Homo sapiens: one gene and its partners. The protein of the gene in region 3 purifies or fractionates together with the protein of the main gene of each other region. This does not show direct contact. Each region holds a gene or a part of one and is shown on either strand. Other genes may lie near its edges. The genes, in order: CAT, HK3, BCAT2, SUPV3L1 and NADK2.

Evidence for each region.
Region 1: the proteins of BCAT2 (region 3) and CAT fractionate together in Homo sapiens (co-fractionation; one large-scale study listed by BioGRID). This does not show direct contact.
Region 2: the proteins of BCAT2 (region 3) and HK3 fractionate together in Homo sapiens (co-fractionation; one large-scale study listed by BioGRID). This does not show direct contact.
Region 4: the proteins of BCAT2 (region 3) and SUPV3L1 fractionate together in Homo sapiens (co-fractionation; one large-scale study listed by BioGRID). This does not show direct contact.
Region 5: the proteins of BCAT2 (region 3) and NADK2 fractionate together in Homo sapiens (co-fractionation; one large-scale study listed by BioGRID). This does not show direct contact.

The regions. Positions count from the first base shown.
Region 1 is NC_000011.10:34,448,833-34,452,782, forward strand, and holds part of CAT (catalase), read left to right. Parts: intron 1-359; coding exon 360-531; intron 532-2,155; coding exon 2,156-2,266; intron 2,267-3,244; coding exon 3,245-3,375; intron 3,376-3,950. UniProt on the Homo sapiens protein: Catalyzes the degradation of hydrogen peroxide (H(2)O(2)) generated by peroxisomal oxidases to water and oxygen, thereby protecting cells from the toxic effects of hydrogen peroxide.
Region 2 is NC_000005.10:176,892,607-176,896,556, forward strand, and holds part of HK3 (hexokinase-3), read right to left. Parts: intron 3,580-3,950; 5' UTR 3,554-3,579; coding exon 3,458-3,553; intron 1-3,457. UniProt on the Homo sapiens protein: Catalyzes the phosphorylation of hexose, such as D-glucose and D-fructose, to hexose 6-phosphate (D-glucose 6-phosphate and D-fructose 6-phosphate, respectively).
Region 3 is NC_000019.10:48,808,119-48,812,772, reverse strand, and holds the start of BCAT2 (branched-chain-amino-acid aminotransferase, mitochondrial isoform a precursor), read left to right. Parts: upstream 1-1,743; 5' UTR 1,744-1,765; coding exon 1,766-1,789; intron 1,790-1,935; exon of another isoform or gene 1,936-2,429; intron 2,430-4,536; exon of another isoform or gene 4,537-4,654. UniProt on the Homo sapiens protein: Catalyzes the first reaction in the catabolism of the essential branched chain amino acids leucine, isoleucine, and valine. May also function as a transporter of branched chain alpha-keto acids.
Region 4 is NC_000010.11:69,196,784-69,200,733, forward strand, and holds part of SUPV3L1 (ATP-dependent RNA helicase SUPV3L1, mitochondrial), read left to right. Parts: intron 1-208; coding exon 209-300; intron 301-1,588; coding exon 1,589-1,769; intron 1,770-2,320; coding exon 2,321-2,414; intron 2,415-3,496; coding exon 3,497-3,716; intron 3,717-3,950. UniProt on the Homo sapiens protein: Major helicase player in mitochondrial RNA metabolism. Component of the mitochondrial degradosome (mtEXO) complex, that degrades 3' overhang double-stranded RNA with a 3'-to-5' directionality in an ATP-dependent manner.
Region 5 is NC_000005.10:36,196,856-36,200,805, forward strand, and holds part of NADK2 (NAD kinase 2, mitochondrial), read right to left. Parts: intron 3,426-3,950; coding exon 3,372-3,425; intron 810-3,371; coding exon 686-809; intron 1-685. UniProt on the Homo sapiens protein: Mitochondrial NAD(+) kinase that phosphorylates NAD(+) to yield NADP(+). Can use both ATP or inorganic polyphosphate as the phosphoryl donor.

The DNA of each region.
Region 1 (3,950 bases), on a different chromosome or scaffold from region 3:
GACATTTCACTGTTAAGCTTGTAGGACGCTTTTGGGCACCTCTCTGACTGGGAGCTTTGCAGAACCCAGTGGCTTTCTCTGGAGCAGGTGCTGAGCACATTTTCAGGCTCCAAAATCATCTTTCTGCTCTTCAGAGCAAGTTTCTTAGCAGATTAGTGTTGAGATTTGTCAAGGGTTTCTGGGGCATCACTAAAAGTTTCAGGCAATGGCCCATCCTGTCAGATTTTAGTACTTTGGACACAGGAAATTAAAAAAGAGGGCAGATGGTATAAACATTGCAAAGCTATGTACCCGTGACAGTGTAAATGAAAGGTTTGATTGTGCTAACTCTCCTGCACTTTCTTTCTGTGTTCCTGTAGAAAGCTGATGTCCTGACCACTGGAGCTGGTAACCCAGTAGGAGACAAACTTAATGTTATTACAGTAGGGCCCCGTGGGCCCCTTCTTGTTCAGGATGTGGTTTTCACTGATGAAATGGCTCATTTTGACCGAGAGAGAATTCCTGAGAGAGTTGTGCATGCTAAAGGAGCAGGTAAGTGCTGTGTTTATTTGCTGTAAAAAGATTGTTTCACAGCACCTGGGTCAAGTGTTATTTCCCAAAGGATTGGAAGACCTTTAACACAAGTGTCAAATCTCCATTTGTGGGAGAAAGGAAAAACATCCAGCAGTAGGGAAATTAGTAAATAAATGATGGTTATTTCCTCAGGTTAAACATTATATATAAAATAGTTTCTTTTAAAAATAGCAGTCTTCCATTTCTCCCATCATTGAAGGAATAAAAATACAATAAGTCCTCACTTAACATCAATAGGTTCTTGGAAACTTTGACTTTAAACGACATGTAATGAAACCAATTTTATGATAGGCTAATTGACGTAAGCAAGAGTTAAGTTCCTATGGCATATTTCTGATTGATAAAACATCATCAAACTTCTAAATAGAGACTCAAAATACCTCTTATATTAAACATTGAAATAAATGTGAGCCATACATACCTTTAAGAAAGATTAGTAAAATAAGATAGTTATTTACTAGCTTATTCCAGTTCAAGGTGGTGGGAGGCCAGAGCCTGTCCTGGCAGGTTGGGGTACAAGGCAAGAGCCAGCCCTGGACAGGATGCTGTCCATTGCAGGGTGGACTCACACTGGGACCATTCAGACATGCCAGTTCACCTAACACGCACATCTTTGGGATGTGGGGGGAAGCTGGAGTACCAGGAGAAAACCTATCTAGACATGGGGAGAACATGCAGACTCCACACAGATGGTGGCCTCAGCTAGGAATAGATTTTTTTCTCATCAACGTTATAATGAAACAACGTTGAACAAAACAATGTTGTTTGAGGACCTGCTGTACAGAAATACAGACATAGACACATGCACTGCAATTGCAACTAAGTTTAAATGATGTACTTACTGGGTAATTACTGGAATGAGCTGCAAAATTTGGGGTAGTTATGTTAGGGTGGTGGGTTTGTGATGATTTTTCCTTTCCTTTTTTCCAACAATTTCTGTAAAACTTTCTTTATCGCTGTTATATCAGACACAAAAGATGGGGGTGGTATTTGAAAGAAAGTGAAAAACTCAGTTGGAAAAAGAGCTCCACAGAAAGGAAGTTTTTCTCTTAGCTTGCTGACTTGGACTTCCAGTTAGGACTTCTGCATTTCTTCATCTCTTCTTCCTGGATAAGGTTTCTCCCCATCTTCTCCAGTGGTTTGTGTGTATTTTTCCATCTTGACTTGTTTAGTTTATTGCTTGCTTTGTATCATCGTTGCTAAGTGTTGAAAAGATTCTTTCTCTTATGTTTTCATCTCCTCTTCTCTCTGTTCTTCACTTTCTCTCATAGGTCCTACCTGTACTTCAGGCCCCTCTGAGACCCTGTGTCCTTGGGCCAACCTTGACGACTTCTAGCCTCACTCACCTCCTTCTCTTGGCTCCAGCTATGTGGCATTCGACTTAGCACTGAATGATAGAATAGGGCTTTGCATTTCACCCTCTTTATTTTGTGTTTGGGCATTTCCCCTTCCTCCAACATACTGGAAGCTCCCAGAAGGCTGGTGCTAACCATCATTTTCTCTTGTCACCCAGGTGCCTGTTGAGGACCTGAATGTCTGAGTAATGGTCTCATGGTAAGGATTTCTGTGTCTTTCTCGTTAGGGGCCTTTGGCTACTTTGAGGTCACACATGACATTACCAAATACTCCAAGGCAAAGGTATTTGAGCATATTGGAAAGAAGACTCCCATCGCAGTTCGGTTCTCCACTGTTGGTAAGTTGGTTTATTGGCGTGATTGGTATGGCTTAACTCAACTTCACCTTTTGGGGATGTTTATAACTTAAAGAAAAAGTTATTAGAAAATAGGAAGCAAGCACTTCTCCAAATTATGTCAAGGTTTTACAGTAGAAGACATATTTGGAGACACATAGGAAGTTACTTGTATTTCTGTTTGTTGAGGTCTTAGGAAATCACACTTACACAGAGGCTACCTCTGCAATTCTGTGACATTTGGAAAGAGCTTTCCTAAAAGTGGTTGCCTCTAACAGAAGAATAGAGTGGAAATCTTATTTAATAACTATGCCTACAGCTGACCTTTATTGAGAATTAATTCTGTGCCAACTGTGGTTAGGTGCTTTACAGATATAATCTCTGATTTGTAGATCTACTTTGCAGAGTGGGATTCTTTTTATTTTTGAGAGGCTAAGTGATGTTTCTCACGTTACAGAGATAGTATTAGATCTATCATACTATATTTCAACATACCTAGTGCTTCACTAGTTCCGTTTCTGTGTCAGTCTCTGCATTTTAAAAATACTGTGGAATGTAAAAATAAATGAAATTAAGAACTAAGAACCAATATTTTAACTCATTTTCTTAATGTTAACCTCATCATTTTGACAACTCACTTATTCTGTTTGTCACTACTTTAAGCCTCATAATTATTTTCTTCCCTTATTTTAATTAAAAGTTCAATTACCTGTTTGAACAAAGTTATCTTATTATGGTAAATGAATGACATTGTCAGCTGTTATTACATGTGTTCTCTTATTGCTCTCAATTAATTATTTTGTTTGATTTGTGGACTGAATTAGCTGGTGGGTAGAAATAATAACCCGGGCACTTAAATACCTAATTTAGTTCTTGGAAGTGGATTAGAAAGGATGGATCCAGGTGCTTCTTTATGTCTCCAGGCTTCTTGGATGCAAAGTGCTGTGGCTTATGCTTCCTGTTTCCATTTGAATATTGTAGCTGGAGAATCGGGTTCAGCTGACACAGTTCGGGACCCTCGTGGGTTTGCAGTGAAATTTTACACAGAAGATGGTAACTGGGATCTCGTTGGAAATAACACCCCCATTTTCTTCATCAGGGATCCCATATTGGTAGGTAATAGAGTATTTTGCACTCAACAAATGTTTGTTGACTTAAATTGATTTCAAATAGGTTGGCATTTGAGGAGAAGCCGTGGGAAAGGCAGAAAGAAAAGAATGCGAGTTGTCTGGACTACTTTTTTCAACACATTTTTCTGTATTTAATAAGATAAAGTAAGAACAGTTACCATTGGTCTTAGATTTGTCATTTTAAGACAGATTGACTTAATGGGAAGTGAGTTTAGTTTTCCTTGCAGAGCATCGAAGATTAGTAAAAAGAGGGACTTTACTTTGGAAACAAGCAGAGGGTGTCTCTACATGCTCTGAGTCAGCAGGAGGGGGTGTGTGTGCGTGCGCGCATGCGGGAGGGTGGGTATATTTTTTCCGTGAAGAAATACTATAAATCCCAGCACTTTGGGAGGCCAAGGCAGGCAGATCACTGGAGTCCATGAGTTCGAGACCAGCCTGGGCAACATGGCAAAACCATATCTCTGCAAAAAAATACAAAAATTAGCCAAGTGTGGTGGCTCATGCCTATAGTCCCAGCTACTTGGGAGGCTGAGGTGGGAGATTTGCTTGAGCCCAGG
Region 2 (3,950 bases), on a different chromosome or scaffold from region 3:
GTCACAGCCTGGCAACTCCATCCTCCTCAGGCTCAGACTTTCCAAAGCCCCCACTTCCTGTCACACAGGAGTTCCATTTCAATGACCTATTGCCCCAAACTGGACACTTATCTTTGGAATAACAACTCAGGCACCTGGATAATAAGGCCGCTCCAGGGAGGAGAGGCTGGGAGGAGAAGCTGCCAGTTGAGGGAGATAAGGACAACTCAGTCCCACCTCTTGCTTTAGGAAGAGAATGGGAAACAGATCCCTAAGAAGGCGAATCATCCTAACTGGGGTGCCAGATGTCCACTTACACGTTTGCCTTACAGCACATGCTTCCAGCAGCCATGCCTGCTAGGGGTGCCCATGCCCACTCTATCTCACCCTGACCAGGCCTATCTGGTGACAAGGGAAAGAGAAGCTGAAGCCAAGCTGCAGACCCTGTTTGCTCACAGGCTGCACATCCAGGAACTCAGGCAGTGGGCAGCAAAGTCAAAGAGCTGCAGGACAGGCGGGGTCTCAGCCTTGCCCCTCTGAGCCCCAGCTGCCCAAGTGTTAGAAATATGGAAACGGAGACTCCGAGAGGGCAAGTCATCTGCAGGGCCAAGCAGCTGTGAAGGGGCAGGGGAGAATTTGAACCCATATCTACCTGAATGCAGAGATGTTTCTATGTCAATGTGAAGCTTTATAAAACCTAGAAAGTTCCCTTGAAAAGAACTCAAGGCTGATGAAAGTTGCTGGAAAGAAACCCCAGATGATCCGGCTTGAGAAAACTTACAGCTGAGTCCTCGCACTCCCTTTTTCTGGCTCTGCAGTCCTGGGAAAGTCACACCTCTCTCTGAGCCTCAGTCACCTCTTCGTGCAAAACTGAGAAAATAATAGTACTTGGAAGTCCCCCAATGCCAGGGACTATGTCTTGCTCAAGGCTACATCTGAGGGCCACGAGGAGCACCAGCTGGAAGCAGGATTTGTTGATTGGATGGTTGTGGTGGCATAAGAATTAAAGGCTGTAATGTATGTGGAAGTGCCAAGTGCCATTGGGATGGGAGGGGCGTTTTAGTATTGCTTCATGAAAACAGTAGAGTCACGGAGAAGTCAATGGCTTGGGCAAATTGTTTTTCTTCCTTTTCCTCTTGGGCATATTGAGATGTTCGGGAGGAGAGACTAGAAGACAGCAGAACTGCAAGAAAGACAGAAGGACTTCCCTGGCAGATCCTGGTGAGGCACACACAAGCCAGGAGAAGCTATCGGAGCCACCCCTGACACCCCAGGAAGAGCAGGGAGAGACCTCAGACAGAAGAGCAAGGAGAAAGGCATTAGAGAGCATGTGAAGTCCAATGTGGTTTCAACACTGGCTCTTGTCACCAACTTGCTGTGTTGCTGGCCTGGGCCCATCACCTCACCTCTCTGAGCAAGCAACCCCTCTATCTAGCAGGAACAATAGTACCTACTTCTCAGAGATGCCATGAGGACTGAGACGACAGCAAACCTGAAGTGGAGGAACAGTGTCACACATAGGAGATGCTCAGTGGAACACGGATTCCCTGTCCTCAGAGCACAAAGCACACCCAGCCTGGAGAGCCTGACTCCATACCCTCTCTGATGACAAAGAGAAGCCTGGTGGAAGGGGTGGGGAAGGGCCTCTGAGATGGTACTGGGAACTGGCCACACGTGGTTAACTAACTTTTTTCAACCTAAGGTCATGGCAAGGGGAGCACAGGGTAAGGCCTGTGGTGCTGAGTTGGGGGTCCAGGACCATGGGAAATTTGGTGTCCCTGTGAAGTCCCCCAAAGCCGAAAGGGATTCTTTCAACCGCAGGTGTATGTGATGGAGCCAGCAGGGCAGATGTGGGCCTGCACAGGAGTGTCATCAGGGAGGGGCAAGAAGCGAGGGAGGAGATGACAGCAGGCCCTAGAGCCAGTCCTGGCTGGGCAGGCACTGTGGCCCAGCCACCGCTGTCACTCCTGAGGCACGGCTGTGGGTCAGGCACAGAAGAACTGTCTGCAGCAGGGTCTGGGGTACAGGTTGGACAAGGGGGAAGTGGGAGCATGAAATGCAGCGAGGGGTAATGCCTCCACAATCTGGGCAACAAGCCTAGTCAAGTGGATGTCAGAATATGCCAGAAAACTAAAGAAACTGCAGAGAATGACTCAAGTACCCTTTAGTGGGCACCTCCTCTATGCAAGTCCTTTTTTTTTTTTTTTTTTTGACAGAGTCTCGCTCTGTCACCCAGGCTGGAGTGCAGTGGTACGATCTTGGCTCACTGCAAGCTCTGCCTCCCGGGTTCACACCATTCTCCTGCCTCGGCCTCCCGAGTGGCTGGGACTACAGGCGCCTGCCACCATGCCCAGCTAATTTTTTGTATTTTTTAGTACAGACAGGGTTTCACCGTGTTAGCCAGGATGGTCTTGATCTCCTGACCTTGTGGTCCGCTCACCTCGGCCTCCCAAAGTGCTGGGATTACAGGCCTGAGCCACTGCGCCCGGACTTTTTTTTTTTTTTTTTTTGAGATGGAGTTTTGCTCTTGTTGCCCAGGCTGGAGTGCACTGCCACAATTTTGGCTCACTGCAACCTCTGCCTCCCGGGTTCGAGCGATTCTCCTGCCTCAGCCTCCCAAGTAGCTGGGATTACAGGCATGTGCCACCATGCCGGCTAATTTTGTATTTTTAGTAGAGACGGGGTTTCACCATGTTGACCAGACTGGTCTTGAACTCTTGACCTCAGGTGATCCACCTGCCTCGGCCTCCCAAAGTGCTGGGATTACAGGCGTGAGCCACCGCGCCCGGCCATAGGCAAGTCCTTTATCTCCATTAGCCTTCAGGGGGTGGGGAGGATTAGACTTTATTTTCCTCCATTTTACTGATGAGGAAACAGAGACTAAGAGATATGAAATGGCTTACACAAGAGTTTCCTGCTCAAGGGTGTGGTATGAGACAGCTTCTAAATCTTGGTCAAGATGACAGAAAAAGAAGAAACTCACTTCTGAGCAAGCCTCAGGCATGAGTTTGGCACTAAAATCGTCTGTGTGCCTGATTGTAGCGGCTACATTGAGGGAGACATGCAGGAGGAACTGGAGAGGCGGGAAAGGAAAGGTCTCAAGAACACAACTTTTGACCAGATAACCCTGAGAAAGTCCACTCTAGACTGTGTCACCCACTTGGGGCGGGAGCGGCACCTGTGTGGCAAGGTGGCAAAAATGACATGTTTGGAGCTGAAACACCTCAGCTCAAGCTCCTGTCATGTCTTAAACTCAAGTCATAACACTTCTCTATATCCCTCTTCATCACCTGTAAGATGATCAGCCCAACCTTGCAGTTGTTTGGAGCATGAAAGGAGATCGTTACCAGCTCAGATATGAAAAGCTCAGTGGAAAGGGGCTGCATGGGTGAGAGCCCAGGGCCCCATGGCAGCTTCAGTCACGCTGCTCTTGAAGGCCTTAGACAAGCATGAAACAGGAACCCAGTGCTGAACTTACCAGCTCTGAGCTGTCTGAGGGCCCGGGCAAGCCCTCCTCAGAGCAACTCAGGGTTTCTTCCCCCTGCCGCAACCCTGAAGACCCAATGGAGTCCATGAGCTTCCACAGTGGAAGGTGGCCACCTATGGGAGAAAAGGGACAACCTGGGTCAACCATTTACTCTATAGGCCCTAGGAGTCTGTAACCCAGACCAACTTCCTTCCTTCTGAAGGGGACCAGGAAGGAAGCTGGGAGCAGAATTCAGAACCTCCAACCATCAAAGATCCTGTAGCAGTCAACCAGAAGGCCCTTGTTTTTCACAAGCATGTCTAATGAGAGAGCACTGGAAAGGCTGATTTCAGTCCAAATGCCATTCGTTAATTCTGTCATTCATTGACATTCACCAGTTCCTGATGCCTGCTATGCTGGACGTTGTGGTACAGATGAAGCAGACCTAGGCCCTGCCCTCAGGGACCTCACAGTCTCATCAACAATCACAGTATGATTAGCACAG
Region 3 (4,654 bases):
GAGAGTAAATTAAGCGCTAATTAGGAGGTAATGGAGGGGGAGACGCAGAAGGCCCTCTTACTCTTGGCCCTCAGGGAAAAGGAGTTTTCCTCTCACTGCCTGTAGAATAGGAAGGTGGCTGGCAAGAAAAGTCCAAAGGGAAGAGAAAGTAGGGGGTTGAGACATCTGGATCAGAGGGAGGAGGGGCTGAAACTCCTGGGTTTTGGTCCGCAGGGCACTGGGGGACGCAGACTCCCCAGCTGGACCCAGGGGGGGGGCAGGGCCCGGGTGCGCTGGCGTCCCCCAGGTGAGGGGTGGAGCTGCAGGGCTGCTGCGGATTGGCTGTGGCCGGGGGGGCGTGTGCACCAACCGCTGATTGGCCGCGGCGGGGGCGGGAGCTGTCAGTGGGCCCCGACCCTACAGCCCGGGGCTGGCGGGTGGGGCAGGAGGACTGGGGCGGAGCGCAGAAAAACAGGGCGACGCCCTGTGAGGGAAGGGTCCCGCGGTTTGGCTGTTTGGGCCTGTGGCTGTTAGGGGTGGCAGGATAGTGACCCGGGGACAGGACTTGGGGGCACTGTGGGGGTAGAATTTGGAGACAGAGTGTCCCAGGGTAGGATTGCCGAGACACGATGGCCGAGGGATACGATTTTTTTTTTTTTTTTTTAATTTGAGACGGAGTCTCACTCTGTCGCCCAGGCTGGAGTGCTGTGGTGCAATGTCGGCTCACTGCAACCTCCGCCTCCCGGGTTCAAGCGATTCTCCTGCCTCAGCCTCCCGAATAGCTGGGATTACAGGCCCCCGGCACCACGCTCGACTAATTTTTGTATTTTTATGTATTTATTTTTATTTATTTATTTATTTTGAGACGGAGTCTCACCCTGTCACCCAGGCTGGAAATGCAGTGGCGCGATCTCGGCTCACCGCAACGTCCGCCTCCAGGGTTCAAATGATTCTCCTGCCTCAGCCTCCCTAGTAGCTGGGATTACAGGCGCACACCACCACACCCGGCTAATTTTTGTATCTTTAGTAGAGACGGGGTTTCACCATGTTGGTCAGGCGGGTCTTGAACTCCTGACCTTGTGATCCGCCCACCTCGGCCTCCCAAAGTGCTGGGATTACAGGCGTAAGCCACCGTGCCTGGCCTTAATTTTTGTATTTTTAGTAGAGACGGGGTTTCCCCATGTCGGCCAGGCTGGTCTTGAACTCCTGGCCTCAGGTGATCCACCCGCCTTGGCCCCCAAAGTGCTGGGATTACAGGTGTGAGCCACCAAGCCAGGACTTTTTTTTTTTTTTTTTTTTGAGACGGAGTCTCACTCTGTCGCCCAGGCTGGAGTGCAGTGGCATCATCTCGGCTCACTGCAACCTCTGCCTCCCCGATTCAAGCAATTCTCCTGCCTCAGCTTTCCGAGTAGCTAAGATTACAGGCGCCCGCCACCACGCCCGGCTAATTTTTTGTATTTTTAGTAGAGACGGGGTTTCATCATGTTGGACCAGGCTGGTCTCTAACTCCTGACCTCAGGTAATCCGCCCGCTTCGGCCTCCCAAAGTGCTAAGATTACAGACCTGAGCCACTTCGCCTGGCAGGGACCGTATTTCAAGTCCTGCCCTCCCACCAGCGCCTGCGCCCCGCAGCAGTGTCCGGCTCCCTGCCGACGCCCTGGAGCTGGGACGGCCTGGGGCGCTGGTCGGCCGCCTTCCCCCAGAAGGAGGCGTGAGCGGGGCGTGGCCGGAACGTCTCTCTTCGGAGCCGCGCCCCGGGCGGGCACAGTTACGCGCCGCACGGATCATGGCCGCAGCCGCTCTGGGGCAGGTGGGTTCGCAGCCCCGCGCCGGGGTCTGGGAAATAACCGGGGGAGGCGCACTTCCGGGAAGACCACTGGCCTGCAGCCGGTCCGACTCGGCGCCGCTCCTCCCGCCCTGGGGTTCCGCTGCAGGGCGCGGAGGAGGATGGCGCCCTTTGGAAAGGAGCACGAGGCTTTAATGGGGTGAGGGGGAGCAGGTAGACGCGGATGAGGTGGGGCAAGTAATTGGCGGGGAGGTAAAAAAAAAAAAAAAAAGGGAAACATGGTGGAGGACCCTGTAATGAGGGAGGCGTGGGGGTGGGGAGGTTGTGATTTGGGGAGCGGAGCCCTGGGGTGCGGTGGGGCATCAGCCTGTGCGGGAGCTGGAATAAAGGGGCCCAGACCTCCAGGGCCGGGTGCAGGTGAAGGCAGAGTTGGACCTCAAGTCTCAGCTCTGGGAATTGGACTCAAGGTCCTATTTTCTTGGAATGAAAGTTGAAAAAAATAAGAGATGGGGATTGCTGTGCTTCCCAAACTCCTATCTGAAGCTTTGCACCTGGATTGGAAATCGAGGCAGCGTCTCATGGTCAAAGTGACAGATGCTGCAGGCTGGCTGAGACGATCCCTTCTGACTGTGCGATGTCAAACAGCAGCAGCGTTTCCCAGAGTCTATGATTTCAGAGAACAAGGTTTCTCAGTGAGGAAGGAAACAGCCAAAGAAAGGGGTCATTACAAGCCTTCACAGCTGCGGTGTAACCTTGGGAGAACTGTCTGTTAACTTTACACCTGACTTTATTTGAGTCTCTTATCCTAGCTGATGAATGTCAGGGCAGAATTTCACTTTTTTCGGCTCTTAGTGACTGATAGGGATAGTCCTGGGATACCTGGGGTATGTGGGCAATCTGGGCTTTAGTGGTGACACTCCTGGACTGTGGTGGGGCAGTACTGGGCTTTGACAGGTCCACTTGGGACTGATGTGGACCGTCTCATCATGGCACAGTTCTGGTGTCATAGAATGGCCCTGAACTCATGATGGGACATTCCTAGGCTCTGATGAAGATAGAGATATCCTGTAATGGAGATAATTGGGCTGAGTCCTCAGCTGTGATGGGGACAGTCCCGGGGTGTGGAGAGGACAGTGCTGGACCATGGTAGGGACAGTCTGGAAGGTACTGGCCTAGACAGCAACATAGGGATAGTCCTGGGGATTGAAAAAGACAACAATGGGATTTTTTTTTTTTTTTTAATTTCAGACCTGGTGAATAGGAAATAAGCCCTGATATTTGGCAGAGACAATGCTGGTTATAATGGGGAAAAGTGCTGGGCTTTGGATAGGGGACATTCCTGAGCTGTTTGGGACAGTACTTGGCTCTGCTGGGGACCAGTTCTGATAAGTTACAGGCACAATCTGGACTTGTGATGTGGAGCATCTTGGGCCATCATAGAACAGCCCTGGTCTGTGATGGGGGAGAGTCCTGGGCTATAAAGGGGGCAGTTCTAGACGTGATGGGGTCATGTGTGGGCTGTGACAAGGGCAGACTGCGGTATGATGGGGTCTCTCCGGGGCCGTGATATGGGGACAGTCCTGGAGTATGGAGGGCACTGCTGGGCTTTGACAGTGACACTCCTGGTCTTTGATGGTGATACTCCTGGGCTGTATGGGACATAATGGAGGTTCTATCACATTATAGAGACCTGCCCTGTGAACCCCCAAACGTACTTTATTTCTTTGTCTCGTCTTTTCTTTTTGACCGAGTCTTGCTCTGTTGCTCAGGCTGGAGTGCCGTGGCACGATCTCGGCTCACTGTAACCTCCGCCTCATGGGTTCAAGTGACTGTGGTGCCTCAGCCTCCCGAGTAGATGGGCTCAAGCGATCCACCTGCCTCAGATTACAGGCATGAGCCACCATGCTGGTCTTTTTTTTTTTTTTTTTTTTTTTTTTTTTTGAGAGACACTCTATCACTCATGCTGGAGTGTAGCAGTGTGATCGTAGCTCACCACAGCCTTGACCAGTAGGTCAAGGTGATCCTCCCACCTTAGCCTTCTGAGTAACTGGAATTACAGGTGTGTGCCACCATACCTGGCTAATTTTTAAATTGTTTGTAGAGACAGGGTCTTGCTATATTGCCCAGGCTGATCTTGAACTCCTGGCCTCATGCAGTCCTCCCACCTCTGTCTCCTAAAGTGCTGTGATTACAGGCATGAGCTACTGAGCCAGCTGCCTACTTTCTTTCTTTGTTTTTTTTCTTTTTAATTGAGACAGAGAGTCTTGCTCTGTCGCCCAGGCTGGAGTGCAGTGGCACCATCTCGGCTCACTGCAACCTCCGCCTCCTGGGTTTAAGCAATTCTCCTGCCTCAGCTTCCCAAGTTGCTGGGACTACAGGCGCCCGCCACCACACCCAGCTAACTTGTATTTTCTGTAGAGACAGGGTCTCCCTATGTTGCCCAGGCTGGTCTTGAACACCTGGCCTCAAGCTATCCTCCTGCCTCGGCCTCCCACAGTGCTGGGATTACAGGCGCGAGCCACTGCGTGTGGCCTCTTTCTATGATTAGATCTATTTTGGCATCTCTTGTTTCTTGGCGTCAATTTCTGTTTTTGTTTTTTTTTTTTTCTGTTTGTGCGCCCCTTTCTGTGTTTCTTTTTCTCATCCTTCCTCTTCCATCTCTTACTCTCTTTTTTTCATCTTGGCTCTGAGGGCAGCTCTCCTGCCCACAGGCTGGCTGTCGCACTGTGTTTGTGTCTCTCATACTGTGGGTGTCCTATCCCTCTGGGCAGAAGCATGGCTGCAAGGCTGAGCAGTCTAGATGTCGCCACCCAAAGGCAATCTGGGGACCCACGCTCTGATCACCCCGGAATCCCTGGAGCCTCACACCAGCAAGACCACGCTGCAGGC
Region 4 (3,950 bases), on a different chromosome or scaffold from region 3:
AGGCCTGAGATTAATAAAAATTGGATAATCTTTGCCCATTAGAAGTTGGTGATTATTTCAAGGTTTGCATCAGAGATAATATTTTTGAAAATACTTGGTAAGGTTGTAAAGCAATATGTAAGCCAACGTAAAGTACTTTGGCTATGTAAAATGTTGTATATTTAATTATAAATCTTTAAAATTAAGAAACCCAGTTTTGCATTGACAGGACTGTGTGCTGAAGAGGTTCATTTGTGTGGAGAACCTGCTGCTATTGACCTGGTGATGGAGCTTATGTACACAACGGGGGAGGAAGTGGAGGTATTCGATTAGATGCTTTGTTCTCCAGGTGGCATATCAAATAGTCCAGAGTACCTAGGCAGTGGCTTCAGAGGCCCTAGATAATGCCAGCGTCAGAACTTAACTAAAAAGAAAGCTTCATTTTCTTGTGATCAACTAGACCATATATATTTGATTGAACCTCATGATCTGAAGTTCTGACAGAGTGGTCATCACACCCTAAGTCTTCCAAGAGTACAGGAAATTCTTCACTTCTTGACAAAACCTTGTGGGGCTTGAGTAGATCTCTTCGAATTAAATAAATCAGTACTCTTAGAAGTTGGAGACCCAGCAAGTTTGTCGTTTTCAAAGTGTTGTATGTCAGATATTGGGGCCTTTGATACACATCTAATTGCCAGACACAGTTTATATTCCTTTTTGAAATTCTTAGAGTTGGAAGTAACTGGTTTCCTTTTAATCCTGCTTCTCTTTTTCTTTACCAGAGTTCTATAGTAAAATGAATTATTATTATTATTATTATTTTTTGAGACAAGGTCTCACTCTGTTACCCAGGCTGGAGTGCTGTGGTGCAATCACAACTCACTGCAGTCTCAGCCTCCTGGACTCAAGTGATCCTCCCACTTCAGCCTCCCAAATAGCTGGGACTACAGGTGTTTGCCACCATGCCCATCTAATTTTTTATTTTTTGAGCAGAGGGCATCTCACTGTGTTACCAAGGCTGGTCTCGAACTCCAGTGCTCAAGCAATTCTCCCACCTTGGCCTCCCAAAGTGCTGGGATTATAAGCATAAGCCAAGGAAATAGTTTTGAATTAGCCTGTTATTTTAGTTTTGTGCTCAGTTTTCAAGGAGAGATAGTGGAATATAGTGGAAGAAATTTTGGAGTCCATTCTGTGTTTTGCCATTCTTAGCTTTGCATTCTTTAGACAAGTCACAGAAGGTTAGACTTGCAAAATGTGCCTCAGACATTAATTTTTTATTGGGCTCAGTTTTACTATTTTATAAAATGGAAATAGCAGTTAATAACCTTTCTGAACTTAACACATTGCCGTGAAAATGAAATATATGAGAAAAAGCTTTGAAAACAGGTGAAACACTCTGTTTCATCTTATTAATTTAGAGATGCCAATGAGAAGTGATGGTAACACTTATAATATCAAAATAAATGTTTTTCTGTGTTTTCTTTTGAAAAACATTGGTACTTATCAGTTTTTAGCTACTCTTAACTGCATTACAATCTTTTCACTTAATTACTAGTCACAAGAAGTTGAGTTGGGTGTGTCATTTTGCCATTTCATGTCTTTATTGTAGGTTCGAGACTATAAGAGGCTTACCCCCATTTCTGTGCTGGACCATGCACTAGAATCTTTAGATAACCTTCGGCCTGGGGACTGCATTGTCTGTTTTAGCAAGAATGATATTTATTCTGTGAGTCGGCAGATTGAAATTCGGGGATTAGAATCAGCTGTTATATATGGCAGTCTCCCACCTGGTAATTATTGACTTTCCTCGTGACAAGATATGAAATCTCCTATCTTTGCAATTTATGTTGAGATATATATAAAAAAATGGTAAACAATATTGAATTAAGCTGCTTGATGTATTGGTAATTTGTTAAACGTCATATAAAATAAATAATTTTCTATTTCATCTTAGTGGAAATAGAAGTATTTTAATTATAGTTCTTGTTAGTTGCTGCTATTATTAGACTGTATCTTAAATGTTGAGTTTATTATTTTCTTACAGAAATGTCATTGAAATCTGGTCTTGACCATGTCCTTTTAAGTTGTAGTCCTGAAATCTGTGTCCTCAGGAATAAGGCTAGTGTGGTGGGGGATTGTGTTGCTATATGACGGAGTATTTGAAGGAATGGATGTAAAGGATAAGTGGCTCTTTGAGGATATAAAGAAATAAAGTTTGAAACAGTAAAGGTTTTATCATTAAAAATGGGAAGAACAGGAGGTGAGGGTTTCCAAGATGTACTTAGCTTGATGTAATAAAAGACTGAGAACACTGATTTAACATAAATTGTTCTTGTTTTAGGGACCAAACTTGCTCAAGCAAAAAAGTTTAATGATCCCAATGACCCATGCAAAATCTTGGTTGCTACAGATGCAATTGGCATGGGACTTAATTTGTAAGTAATTTGTTTTTAATAAGATGAATATTTGGTGAGTTAAATGGTGGTTTTTTTGTTTTTCAGTTTTCTAATTGGCATTAATGACCAAACGCTATGATTTGGGAGAATAAATATTATAGGCTAGATTTGAGGTTTGTCTTGCCTACACCTATTGAGGGAAATAAAAAGAAAATATTAAATAGTGCCAGGACTTTTCTTAGGGACAGGGTCTTGCTCTTTTACCCACGCTGGAGTGCAGTGATCAAATTGTAGCTCAGTGCAGTCTTGAACTCCTGGGCCCAAGTGATCCTCCTGCCTCAGCCTCCAGAGTAGCTGGGACCACAGGTGCACACCACAAAGCCTGGTTATTTTCTTTTTTTTTGGGTAGTGACAAGGTCTTACCCTGTTGCCCAAGCTAGTCTCTAACTCCTGGCCTCCAGTGATCTTCCCACCTCAGCCTCCCAAAGTGCTAGGATTACAGGCATGAGCCACTACACTCGGCCCACACTAGGACGTTTGAATGCTGCCCACCACTACTGCTAACCTATTGTACTACGTCACTTTACTTTCAGTTTCTCAGTCAGGTGTCCGAGTGCCTATTATGCACATGGGGCTAGTTATTATCTCTAAATGATAACAATGTTAAGCCTAAATATTATTTATTTATGTATTTATTTATTTCTGAGACAGAGTCTCACTCTGTGCCCCACGCCGGAGTACAGTGGTGTGATCATGGCTCACCGCAGCTTCAAACTCCTGGGCTCAAGCGGTCTTTGTGCCTCAGCCCCCCGAGTACTAGAGCAACAGGCACACACCACTGAACCTAGCTGATGTTTTTAATTTTTTGTAGAGACTTGGGTCTTGCTATGTTGCCCAGGCTGGTTTTGAACTCCTGGCCTCAAAACAATCCTCCTGCCTCAGCCTCCCAAAGTGCTGGGATTATGGGTGTGAGCCACTGTGCCAGACTTTCCTTAATTTTGTAAGTGGCAGTCAAGGTTGCAAGAGGACCTAAGCTAGTATTGGAGTGAGCATTATGCAATGACCCAAGTATTGGAGGGTTTTTCATACAGTCTGCAGGATCACTTTTATTTCTGTTTCAGGAGCATAAGGAGAATTATTTTTTACTCCCTTATAAAGCCCAGTATCAATGAAAAGGGAGAGAGAGAACTAGAACCAATCACAACCTCTCAAGCCCTGCAGATTGCTGGCAGAGCTGGCAGATTCAGCTCACGGTTTAAAGAAGGAGAGGTTACAACAATGAATCATGAAGATCTCAGTTTATTAAAGGAAATTTTGAAGAGGCCTGTGGATCCTATAAGGGTAAGAGGTAACATGTTAACTACTGCTTCTCTGTGGAGGAGAGTCATTCTTTCCCTCACCCACCATCCAGACTCTCACCTCAGACACATTTCTGGATACAGACATAAGTGAAAGAAAATTTTGTGCCATGAAAACTGCATTAAAAAAAGCCCTACTTTATTGCTTTGGAGAGCCACAGAGTTCTTTGATCAGAGAATGGTATGCAAGTGAAGGTCCAGATTGACAAAGTTTAGT
Region 5 (3,950 bases), on a different chromosome or scaffold from region 3:
TTTGTGTCTAACCTGGGGAAAAAATTAATTGTATGTCTATAAAAAGAAAATATGTACACTAAGGTCAGCAATTTGTTAATTGCTTAAGCTGTTTTCTGCTTGCCATGAGATAGATGACATTTTCTCCGAATTTTAGATTTTCTTGTTAATTTGGAAAATTGGGGAACCTTTACAAAATAAGAAATTACATCCACTTTTTTATATCCTCTCTCCCCAAAAATAAAATGAAGCAAATTCAATAGGCAGGAGGTCACTTTTAGGGAAAACCTAGAAGAAATGAATACTATTCTAAAGGTTTATTGCTATGCAATCTAAGTTTTCTATCAGTGTTTATTGTGTTTTTATTCTACAGCTTATGAAAAAGAAGGGGCTTTCTATTCAGCTTCTTTTACAATTATTGTGTCTTCGTTCATTTTTTAAAAACCAACAAATCACTGAAATAAATAACTGTACCCTTTCTAGTCACTTAAGTTTTAGCTTCTCTAAAATGGCACAATGAGTGTAAAAGAAAATATGATTTTAGCCGGGTTAGCATGATACCTTGTTACTTTCACAGGTTCTACTTTTCCTGCTAGATTAAGTTTGAATGAGCAAATTTAATGAAATTAAATAGTTTTCAAACCAAGTGGGCTTTGTAACAATGAAAGGGATGAAAACAGTCAGAAGTCAGATTGAGGATGCTTACTTTGAGGAGAAACAACGCTGACGACTGCTTGAGAAAACTCTATTTGCTATTGGTTCTCGAATACTGAAAAGTATTTTTGGTTCTTCCGGACTGTAGAGCAGTGATTCATTATATTCATTTGTTACTACAAAGAAAAAAAAATTAGCACACTCAATAAAAGATGGTCACTTCTGAGAAGGGCAAAACAAAAAATAGATGCCATCCCCCATTTAAATTCTGTTCCAAAAGTATATTTGGGAACAAGTTTCTTGAAACTCGTAACACATATTCCATTAAAACACAGTAACAAAAAACCTTATAAATAAGAATTAGGTACCATGATTTGCCCACAGAAACATACATCACCCACAATACAGTAGGAATAGGTACAACTGGGGAAAAAGAAAAAAATAAAAAACACTAGCTTCAAAACTTGTAATTAAACAATAGAGGAATTAGATAGATGCACTCAAAAAAGGAACTTGAGTTGCCATATGGCCCTACCAAGTTCTTTCCAAAATACCATGTCAAAGAGCTCATAACGATGATAATAAGCAAACAGCTTGATATAAAATGCAGTCTCAAACAATGACAGGCAATATCCTTTCTCCAATACACCCCCATTACTCAACATATTTTCTAGAAATCTTTGGGACCTGCTTTCTCTCTAATCAAGAGGTACAGGAGGGCTGGAATACAAAGCACAAATTGGTTGAGAAAACTACAAAGATATCAGGCTTGAAAGTTTAGTTGAGTACTACATTAAAAAAATTAAAAGACTGTCAGATAATCTACCTTATTTATAAAAGTTTCATTTGAATTACTGACTTTAAAAAAAATCTAATTCACCCACAAAAATAAAATTTGGCTTCATGAGAACACACCACAAAAAAGCATGCTAGCTCTGAAGGAAATTTCAAGAGTAATTTCATAAATGTCTGTAACAGTGATTGCATCACTGGCATTCACTGTTGCTTCTGAAGATAGTCAAATCTTGAAAGGAATGCCATTCATTAAAGTAAAGCTTTGGTATGTTTACTAAAAGAAGAAAGTCACAGATATTTTTATATATATATAGATATAATATAAATTAATATATATATACATCCTTAATTTATATATATACCTGATATAAATTTCAGTTATTTTATATATATTATTTTTTAAGTTGAATTATATAATTAAGAAGCAATTACTATATATACCTAACTTTCCTTTGATACAGATTTACTGCTGGTGCTAATTCATGAACCATGATTAAAATAATCTTGTAGGTCTCAAATTGAGTGAAGGAGACCAGAATCCATTTTAGAAGGCTGAACGGGGCTTGAGAGATTTGCTTCTTTTTTCAAACTATTTTAGAGGCAAACTGTCCCCCCAACAAAGGAGGTCTTATGTGGAAACCTAACAATAAAGATAAACTGACACTGTTCAAATATTGTATCAGGTTATGTTCTCACTCATAGGTGGGAACTGAACAATGAGAACACATGGACACAGGAAGGGGAACATTACACACTGGGGACTGTTGTGGGGTAGGGGGTGGGGGGAGGAATAGCATTAGGAGATATACCTAATGCTAAATGACGAGTTAATGGGTGCAGCACACCAACATGGCACATGTATACATATGTAACAAACCTGCACGTTGTGCACATGTACCCTAAAACTTAAAGTATAATAATAATAAAATTAAAAAAAAGAAAAAGATATTGCTAACTCATGTTAAGGTAACCAATGAGAATGAGGCCGTTCTGATAAATCCAAGCATTTGTGTTTATGGATGACAGTTGCAGTCTTACATGTGTCAATATTCACTTGGTGTCTATATATTTTTTGTCATATATGTTGAGAAAATACATAGGTTGGTAGATGTAACTTTAAACACATTTGGGTTTGGAGTTTTATAAAAAACAATCTAGCTTGAAATTTTAGGATATCCTTCAATGCAGAGAGCAAAAAAAGCTTTACTTTGAGGTGTGTACAAGAATGATCCTGGTAGATAGTAGACTTCAGTGTGTTACAATCTGATACGCAAATCAAATGAATGTGTTTTTCAGTTTAAAAATTTAAATTGTTTTAAACAGAATTTAAAGAATACATTTGAAGAACTTCTACAAACACCAGCTAGATGATCTACTTTAACCCCCTCTTTTTACAACTGTAGAGGATCACAGCCTTGCCCAAGTTTCACAGCTGATGTAGTAGATCTGGAAATGGAACCTACGATTTCAGATTTCTTCATAAGTATTCTTTCTCTAACAGCACTAATTCTCTTACAGGAATCGTGAGGTAATCAGGCAAAACTAGGGAGAAGAATGTTAAAAAGAATATTTGAGTGAATAAGAAGATAAGCACTCATAGCTCAGTGAATTCCATCTCATTCAGAGGATATTAATGGCTTACTGAATTTAGCTATGCATTTCCTATTTGTGAGATAAGGATTTTTCTGTAATTCCCTATCCCCCAGGACATGTTTGCAGTTATACTGCTTTGACTTAAGAGTTATATTTCAGGGTTGACTAAAAATCACAACAAAAGTCCAACTTTAATCTTTATGTTGCTTAAAGACATTTAAGGGGATATTGTATTAAAAGCATGTTTGAGTAAAAAAAAGTACTTTGCTAATTAAACAACACTTCACACTATCATCCTTAAAACTGAAACAGAACTAAACTGTTAGTGATTATTATCATTTGTCACTGACCTTTCTCTACCAATTCTCTGTTCAATGGAAGACTCAAATTTCCTTGTCGTTTTGCTGTTGAAAAAGGAAAGGGGGAAAATGTATGTTATAAATATATATATCTTATATATATATTTTCCTTGAAAAAGGGGGAAAAATGCTTAAAGTGTATATGTGTTATATATATATATGTTATTATGTAACATAATAGCTAATATAAAACAACATGTATACATTATATAGCATATTATCATAAATAAACAGTAGCCCCCCCTCGCCCTTATTAGCACTTTTGCTTTCCATGATTTTGCTTTCTTCCAGTTTCAGTTACTGGCAGACAACCATGATACAAAAATATTACATGGAAAATTATAGAAATCAACAATTCATGTTTCAAATTGCACATCATTCTGAGTAGCATGGTAAAATCTCACGCAGTCCTGCTCTAACCCACCTGGGATATGAGTCATCCTTTTGTCCAGCTTATCCATGCTGTACATATTACTGGCCCATTAGTCACTTAGTAGCTGACTTGGTTATTAGATCGACTGTCATGGTATCATAGTGCTTGTGTTCAAGTCACCCTTATTTAACTTAATA